Regions from separate parts of the Homo sapiens genome. Here region 1 is reported to be linked to region 2. Evidence: microRNA targets listed by miRTarBase, many of them from high-throughput screens and not tested one by one. Region 2 holds a microRNA gene; the other region holds the end of a gene's coding sequence.
The links. Region 2 holds the annotated microRNA hsa-miR-432-3p (CUGGAUGGCUCCUCCAUGUCU, at 2,897-2,917, shown strand). A microRNA usually pairs through its seed, bases 2 to 8, with sites in the 3' UTR of a target mRNA and lowers its output. Matches are read on the target gene's strand: a 7mer-m8 pairs with bases 2 to 8, a 7mer-A1 pairs with bases 2 to 7 and ends in A, and an 8mer does both.

Region 1: miRTarBase lists GABRQ as a target of hsa-miR-432-3p. Seed matches in the 3' UTR shown: 7mer-m8 at 2,251-2,257.

The regions. Positions count from the first base shown.
Region 1 is chrX:152,653,077-152,657,076 of GRCh38, forward strand. GABRQ (gamma-aminobutyric acid type A receptor subunit theta) reads left to right here. Exons shown (of 9, transcript NM_018558.4): 9 at 1-4,000. The coding sequence ends at 205. The region is part of intron 2 of MAGEA3-DT (MAGEA3 divergent transcript); the gene reads right to left. Among named protein-coding and RNA genes, the nearest start is that of GABRQ, 17 kb to the left of the region's middle.
Region 2 is chr14:100,881,648-100,886,196 of GRCh38, forward strand. MIR432 (microRNA 432) reads left to right here and starts at 2,836; the gene lies at 2,836-2,929. RTL1 (retrotransposon Gag like 1) reads right to left here. Exons shown (of 4, transcript NM_001134888.3): 4 at 1-3,227. The coding sequence starts at 3,141. MIR433 (microRNA 433) reads left to right here and starts at 239; the gene lies at 239-331. It overlaps MIR127 (microRNA 127), which reads left to right and starts at 1,332; the gene lies at 1,332-1,428. It also overlaps MIR136. RefSeq lists a silencer at 4,045-4,339.

The sequences.
Region 1 (4,000 bases), not on the chromosome of region 2:
CATGGCCCATGGCCAAGAGAAGGACAGTAGCTCAGAGTCTGAGGATAGTTGCCCCCCAAGCCCTGGGTGCTCCTTCACTGAAGGGTTCTCCTTCGATCTCTTTAATCCTGACTACGTCCCAAAGGTCGACAAGTGGTCCCGGTTCCTCTTCCCTCTGGCCTTTGGGTTGTTCAACATTGTTTACTGGGTATACCATATGTATTAGTCCCCCAGTGCTCCAGAACAGCGGGAGCACTGTGCTGTGCTCCTTTCAGTTTCTTTTGGGTTTGTTTTTCCCTCTTTCCTTTGTTCCTTTTATTTTGTGGTTATTTGGGCAATCCAATAAGTTCATACTTCTCTTTATAAACATGAGGTGGGGAGTAATTGGAAAGAACATGTTCTAGCTGGAAGGGAAGGGATTGAGGAGGAGTTGGAGGTATACAGCACATGGATTTCCTTTCCTGCTAGAAGACTCTCACCTTTTCAAAGACTTGTAACAAGGAATAAGCATAGAAAAGCCCCTGGAAATGTTTAGAGGACAGAGAAGAGCCAGGTTGGGGGATGGGGCAAGGATCTGGGCCTTTTGCCCACAAACATTTCTGGGGGGCTTTTCTGTCCCCCTTGAGGTGTCAACATTTCTTTTTCATTACATGTTTTCTTCTTTTTTTGTTTCCTCCTAGGGATTATGGGTCTTGTTCACCCTCTGCTTAGGGCTTTATAGAAGAAAGTCAAGCTGGGTTGGGCTGGGGTTCATAGCTAAAGGGCTAGCCATGGCTTAGAAGTTCAGGGAACTTCCTATAGGAAACTTAGGGAGCATTTGTAAGTGCCTTTCCCCCACTGTATGGCATTTGACTGTGGTGTTTTGATGCAAGCGTGGAAGGGGAATGTGGGTGGATGGGGCTGCAGAGTGAGACATCAGGGTGAGAGAGCACATACTCAGCTTGTGGGGTTGGCAGAGGGTGGGGGGTGATGTCAGGTTGGAAATTACACAGTTGAGCTGGCCTCTTCGGAGGGATTGGAACTTGCCTATATTTCTGCTTCAGAACGCTTGGCAATAGAGACTCAATACATCTGTCTAAGTCAGGAGTTAGCTTTCCGTCAGTTGCTGAGTTGATCACCAGTTACAGCACTTGGTGAATAAGCACTAAGGTTAGGATAATTCACACTTGCTATTTTACCATCTGATCTAGACTAGCAGATGAATATCTATCGTAAGTCTATATACTAATCCTTTCTATTTGTCTAGTGCATAGTAAGTGTCAACAAGCTCCCTGACCCATTACATCACTGGAGCCTCACAGGAGCCCTGTAAGCCAGGGAAGGCAAAGCACATTGTCCCCAGTGTTCCAAGGAAAACGAATGGAGCTTATGCCGCATGCTTGAGGACATGCAGCCAGTGAGTGGTAGATCCACCCCACTTGCTCTTTCTTGTCTTTTTCCTCCTGACTGTCCCAACTGAGGCATTTCCTTTTCTTCCCTCCCTAAAGAGGGTGCTCCAGAGGGCCCCCACCACATCCTCTAGCACCTGGGGCATCTCTGCAGGAATAGGCTGGTGACCAGCCAATGAGCGTGACGTGAGCAGATGGAGAACACACTCTGCCCACTGAGCAGGGCCCCTAACGGAAGTAGGATTGGCCAGCATTCCAACTTGCCAAGCAGCTCCACCTCACTGATGGAGGTTGTGAGGGAGTGAACTTTGCCGAGCACTCAACATATGCCACCTCTTCCTCCCTATGCAGTCTCTCCCTCAGTCCCTTACCCCTCTACCCACTCACCCTTTAACTGTGCTTCTGTGTTTGTGTTTCTGTATATACCTGGGTGTATGCATATGCAGCAGGGTGGGTGTATGTACATATACAACCATTTGAGAAGCTGCATAGTGCCGTGTCTAGTGGTGTAAATCTACATTGGTGTGTACAGAATTGTATCTACAGCATGTGGATGCATGCGTGTGTGTGCACATCCCTGTGAAAGTGTGGCTTATGTATGTGTATGCTTGTGTACACATGGGTCTATGCTGAGTGCATGTATATAAGGGCATGTCTGCATATCTATGTTTATCTGATTTGAATGGGTGTGAAAGGAAATACCCCTGAAAGCATATGTATTCCCTGTTGGTGACCCTTCTAGAACCACTATAATTCCCTTGGCCTGCTCCCATATGGTGGAGGGGCCCTATTTGGCCGGGCTGCTTAACTGACTGTTTCTTTCCAACTTCCTGTTCCAGGGAGCAGCATCTCCCAGTTCCCTTCCACTGTTTGCCCTGTCCCTCCATCCATCTGTGCTGTCTCCTAGATAGAAGACTGGGGAAGTGAATGTAGTCCTAAGAAGTGGTGAGCTAGTGCCTTGAGGTAGGAAGTGGTTAATCCATGGAAGAAGCTGCAAGTACAGAGCATTTCACTTTGTCCTAGAGGAACATGTTTCGGGGTAACAGGCTGGGGAGTGAGGCTGAAAGAGGCATTGAGAATAGACACTTGTACAGTCACATACACATACACACACACAAATCTTGTACGACAGTTGAAAACAAGAAAGTTACCACTGGAAGAGCTAAAATTGCCTCTTTATTTTTGGATACCCCATACAGAGATTCAGGTGGAGGGGAGAGCAGTGACTCCATGTCTGAAGCTCCCAATGTGGCTATTGAAAGGCTGGCTTCCTGGAGCCTAAGCATTGGTTGGTTGACGTGGATTTGGGTCTCCAGCACCCTGGAGGTGCTTTCAACCCTGTGGTGGCAAGCAGTTCATTTGGGATAAAGTCATAAAGGGAGATTGGAGCAGTGTGAAGAAAAGGAGGGTTTTAAGATTTGTCTGGAAGCAATGCACATGAAGGCTTCACAGCACAGAGGAAGGGCAGCGAGGCCAGTTGTAAATATCTCTATAGATCCATATAGCTAGATATAATACTATACCTTAAAAAGGATATCTTGCCCTGACGTGCTGCAATGAGAGCAGTTGAACTCTACTGCGACTCATACTCTGTAGGTTAAGTGTCAAAATGAGGTGGAGATTTGGCAGTGACACCCTTTCGGGAACGTGAACCTTCTGAGTTTGCTATGGATTTGGTCATTTTAGCCTGCACGTTGCCAGATCTCCCCTTGTTGAGTCTTGTATGTGGTCTGTCCTCTGTGTCATTTGAGTCCTCAGCTGTCCCCAACCCCTTCCCAGCCCCTCCCCAGCCTGCAGTCACCCCCTGTCCAGCAAGCTGCCTCCATCCCATCCCTCTCCTCACCTCACACCAGGTAACTCTGGAAGTGCAGAATGCTTGGTAGTTTGGAGCTTGGGCAGCATCTGGGATGCAACAACCCCTATTTTACTCTTCTACCCACCTTCCATTTCTTTCCTTCCCATCGACTTCCCCGACCCAGGATCCCTTCTTTGCCACTATCATGGGAAGGACACCCCTGTCTGTCTTTCTGAAGTATCATTTTATTGTGGGGATGTGTGACACGTTTCCTACCAAGTTCTTGCCAGTTCCATCTGCCACTGTGGGGTGCCTTTGCACAGGTCATGGACGATCTGCTGGGTCTTACTAGAGCCTGTCAAATGTATTCTTACAATTCATGTCATCTTGTTAATAGCAGGACTTCAAAGTCTTTGCATATTTAGAGCTGAGTTTTGCTGAGACTGTGGCCATTCCTAATGAGGTTTCCTCATTCCATATATATAATAGCTAACCCTTAAAGCCATTAACTAATGAATGCATTTATTAAGCTATCCACTCGCATGGTACCCTGCTGTGGTGATGAGCAGTAACTTTCTAGCTATTCCATAGCCCAACATCAAAGGAAATCGTGACTCGTCCTACTAGAAGTGTAGTGTCTTTGTGTTTGTTGTGTAGTGTCCTGTGATCAATATAAAATCTATATTATCAGTGTTGGGTTTTCAGGGGAGGGAGGGAGAGGATGTTAAAGTCTCTCTTTGATAAACTTAAATTATGAAATAGCCCAGTTGTTCAGGGTCACTTCTATTGACTCAATTTGTGTGAGACTTTGCACTCACTATCTCGCCGGCCGGACTGC
Region 2 (4,549 bases):
CCGTAGGATCTGTTCATTGAGCTCATCCTGTTCTTCATTCTCTTCTTCCCCGGATTCCGTCGATGGATCCCTGGGGAATCCCCTTGAGGCCAGCAGCAGGGTTTGCCTGGCGGCAGTGTTCCTCTGGAAGGCTCTCCTCCACCGGAGGTTTCTCACAGGTGGCAGAGCTCGGCCGCCGTCTTGTTCTGGCAGCTCCATGACGTCAAAGTTGAAGTGGGAGAAGAAGAAGACCCAATGCCCGGGGAGAAGTACGGTGAGCCTGTCATTATTCAGAGAGGCTAGATCCTCTGTGTTGAGAAGGATCATGATGGGCTCCTCGGTGTTCTCCAGGTAGCGGCACCACACCATGAAGGCAGCCCGTATTGGAAGAATCTTCATCTCCGCTTGAGAGTACTCAACCTCGATAGGGGAGATGTTGCGGGAGTAGAAAGCGCAGCAGGCTCTCTTGCCGGTTTGGTCGTCGATTTGGATCAGGGAGGCGTGCAGGGCCGTGCCGGTGACGCCGGTTTCCAAGTAGAATGGGTTCTGGGGCTTGGGGTGGTGGAGGAGAGGCGCCTTGCGGAAAGCCCTCTTCAGGCACTCGAAGGCCTCTTGCTCCTCGACTCCCCAGTAGAACTGGTAGGAGCTCAGCAGCTGCCGCACCAGGGGCTCTGCGATGATGCTGAAGCGCTCCACGAAGTGGCGGTAGGGGAAGACGAATTCGATGAAGTTTCGCAGAGATAGCTTGGAGCCAGGGGTAGGGTACCCTGTTATGATGGTCATGACGTTCTTGTTCAGTTTCACCCCTTTGGGGGTGACGACGAAGCCCAGGAATTCCACGGTTTGGCGGTGGAACTGGCTCTTGTCCAGGGAGCAGTAGACGTTGTGATGGCGGAAGCGGACCAGGACTTGGCGGACGTGGTGGAGGTGCTCCTCCTGACTCATTGAGTAGATCAGGACTTCCTGGCCATAAGAAAGCACAAAGAACCCTAGCATGTCCTTTAGGATGAAGTGAATCACGTTCTGAGGTATGATAGGGTCTGGGGAGAGCGCAAACGGCTGGTAGCTCTTCATCTCTTCAAGCTCCAAACCAAACGCTGCTTTCCACACATCTTCGGTGCGGTGCCCGTTCACGCTTTCCTCCACAATGGTCCCACGCAGCTCCAGTTTTGTGAACCACTCGGCTCCGTGTAACTGGTCAAACAGTTCCGGAATCATCTGTATGTAGTCCTGTCTGTTGGTCAGCATGTCCTGCAGGTCCCAGTATTCCTCCTGTAGCCTGGCTCTTTCTTGCATCCTGGCACCCACAGGTTCCCAAGGCGCGGTGGAGGGACACTCGTAAAAGGTCTCGCTGTGATCACTGTCTCCAGCCTGCTGAAGCTCAGAGGGCTCTGATTCAGAAAGATCATCGGATCCGTCTGAGCTTGGCTGGTCGGAAGTCTCATCATCTGCTTCCTTCGGGTTAAACACGTCGGCCAGGTCTGAGTATGGGTGTGGCAGTCCGGGTAGCAGGCTCATGCCGTGCCTCTCTAGGGCAATGCATGGCGGGGGCGGGCGGAAGCAGTTCTTCAGGCAGTAGGGAGAGTGGAAGGTGCAGCGGCCTTTGATCCAGTCGACTTCGGGGGCGTGGACTCGGAGCCAGCGGATGCCTAGGACCACAGAGAAGTTCGGTGAAGGTACGATGTCAAATTCGATGGACTCCTGGTGGTTCTGGTGGATACACACCAGGGGCTCCGTGTAGAGCCAGACAGGCTCGTTGCCAATCAGCGAGCCGTCCACGGATTGGACCGGCTGTGGGTACGGCTTCTCGTAGAGCTCGACGTAGTGCTCTTGGGCGAACTTCTCATCCATGAAGTTGCCGTCAGCTCCCGAATCCACCAGGGCCTGGACCGCGACGCTGTGGTAGGGGTTCACTCTCACCATGAGCAGCAGGAAGAGGTGGGCGCGATTGATGTCCGGATGGACTTCGCTGGGCAACCAGCTGCTGACCATCCACCTCTCTGGAGCAGGTGAGTCGATCCAGGTCAGGTTCCGGGGGCGGGCCTCGGGGGGCAGCCTGAGCATAGCTCTTCTCTCTGCCAGCTTCTCTTCTATTTGCAGGATGAGCACAATCAGACTGTCTAGGGAATCCGGCTGAGGGACCCGGAATAGATAGTGCCTGATCTCCTCGTTGAGCCCCTGGCACAAGTGGGCCTGCAGGACTTCATCTGGCCAGCCCAAGATGGGTACCAGGCTCTGGAACTCATCGATGTACTCAGTGGCAGAGCGGCCGCCCTGCCTGATGGTGAACATGGCCTCTTCTGCCACACGCAGTGCCTGGCGGTACTCAAACACTTCGGACATGGCCTCCAGGAAGGCTGGGAAGTCTCCGATCAGGGGGCTGTTTTCCTGCAGTAGAGCTTTGGCCCATTCTAATGCCAAGCCGGACAGGTGATTGATGACATAGCCAACTCTCAGACGGTCGTTATAGAACATTCTTGGGTAGCTCTGTAAGGTCAGTTGGCAGAGTACGATGAACTCGTGGAATTCTCTGCGATCGCCAGAGAAGTGCTTTGGGGCGGGCAGTTGGCCTGCATTGATCCCTTTGATCAAGATCTCTTCTGCTACTCTCTGTTGCTCTTTGAGGTCTTGCATTCGGAAGTACAGCGAGATGATGGACCTCACCATGGCCATAAGTTCTGCGGTTGAGTGCTCGGTCTGGTTTTGCTCTTGAGGAGTCTCCTCCCTTCCCGATTCCTTCAGGTCAGTGTGAGCCTCTTGTTCTTCTCGGGCTCCCGATGGGTTGACTGATGCTTCTTTCATCCTATCAGATGCTCCACTGAGTGGATCCCCCCTTGCCTGGTGTGAACCGTTGCATGACTCCTCCAGGTCTTGGAGTAGGTCATTGGGTGGATCCTCTATTTCCTTACGTGGGCCACTGGATGGCTCCTCCATGTCTTGGAGTAGATCAGTGGGCAGCTCTTCCATTTCCTGGAGTGGGCCACTGGGGGGCTCCTTCTTTTCCTGGGCTGGGCCGCTGGCTGGCCCTGCCTCTCCCCGCACTCCACTGCCCGACGTCGCCTCGGTGGTGTTGGATGAGCCCTCGGAGGACTCCATTTGTTTTGATGATGGATTCTTATGCTCCATCATCGTCTCAAATGAGTCTTCAGAGGGTTCTATCATTTCGTCGGATGGAAAGGAGTGTATTCTGAAGATTGGTAAGGTTGTGATGGCGTCCAGTCAGTAGCTGGGACCGTGGAGATCAGAACCTGGTGGTGGAAGGGGAGTGTGGGGAGTAAAGGCAGTAGTTTAGGATCTTGTGAAGTGGCAGTATCAGGGTCTCAAGGACAAATCAGATGCCCAACTAATCAGAGCAGAGAGAAATGGGGGAAAGCCTTCTTGTATCGAGCCAGCCTCTTTGGCTGGTCACTTGGGGTGCCCCCAGGGAGGGAAGATCTGTCAACCCCTGACCTGCCTCCCAGGCTTATTCAGTCTGCCTGTCCTGTCCTTTTCCTCCATAGATGTGAGAAATTCACAGCCCATAAATTCTGTGGCTGGGAGCAGCCACCGTGGCAGGCGGGTACCTGGCAGGGTGCACAGGCTGCTCCATTCCCCCCTGGCACATGCACCTGGTCAATCCTCTTTTCCTGCTTTGGTCACCTGAGAATCACAGAGGTCACATCTCAGCACCATCCAAAGCCACCCCTGGCAGGCTCAGGGCTCTGGAGCAAGCCCAGCCACCTTGGTTGTGGAGCGGGAATCTCTAGCAAAGATGCCTACTGTTTCACCAGTGCAGTGGAAGAGGAGAAAATGGGCACTTGGCCACTGTCCCGTCAGTTGGGTCAGCAGCCCAAAATAGTTCTTATTTCCTTCCCCATGTTCAAAATAGAAATTTCAGGGGGTGTGTACAGGTCTGGGTTTTTTTTTTTTTTTTCCATAAATTTTATAACATACCTACTATGTGCTGGATAACTGCATATTTGTTACTTGATTCTAACTCAGACTTTTGGCCAATTTCTCTTTCTCGATTTGGTCTCCTTCCAATGCTATGTTCTCCCGACCTCTGAGCTGTTGAGGAGATCTTCAAATAATCTCCTTCTCTTCCTACAATCTCCACTCTCCCAGGACTGCCCTCTTTGTGAGGCTTCTGGAACTTCACACATCTGGCCTCAATTTCACCAGTGCAAGCATATCTGCACGCCTCTCCAATCTTATCCTCCCAGGTCCCCTTCTTAACGCCAGTGGGTCTGGTCTCCTCTTTCTAGCAAATATCTTTTTCTCTCTGTTGCTGGTTGAGCCCTCCCAACAGACATGTATCTGGCAGAGTTGGGACATTGAGTGTGGGGGTTGGGGGGAACATGTGACATCTTTGGAATCTGACGGTCCCAGAGTGGATTTTTGGAAATCTAGTGTTGGGTGGTTTTAGTGGGCTGAGACAGAATTGAAAGGGAATGTCTTGGTTGGGGTTATTTGCACATTTCTTCTCTGCTGGGGCAGAGCAAATTAAGCTTTGATTATCTGATAGATTAACTGTAAAGCTACTGCTCTTTATAAATTTAACACCTTTTGTTACTTCTGAGTTTTCTTCTAA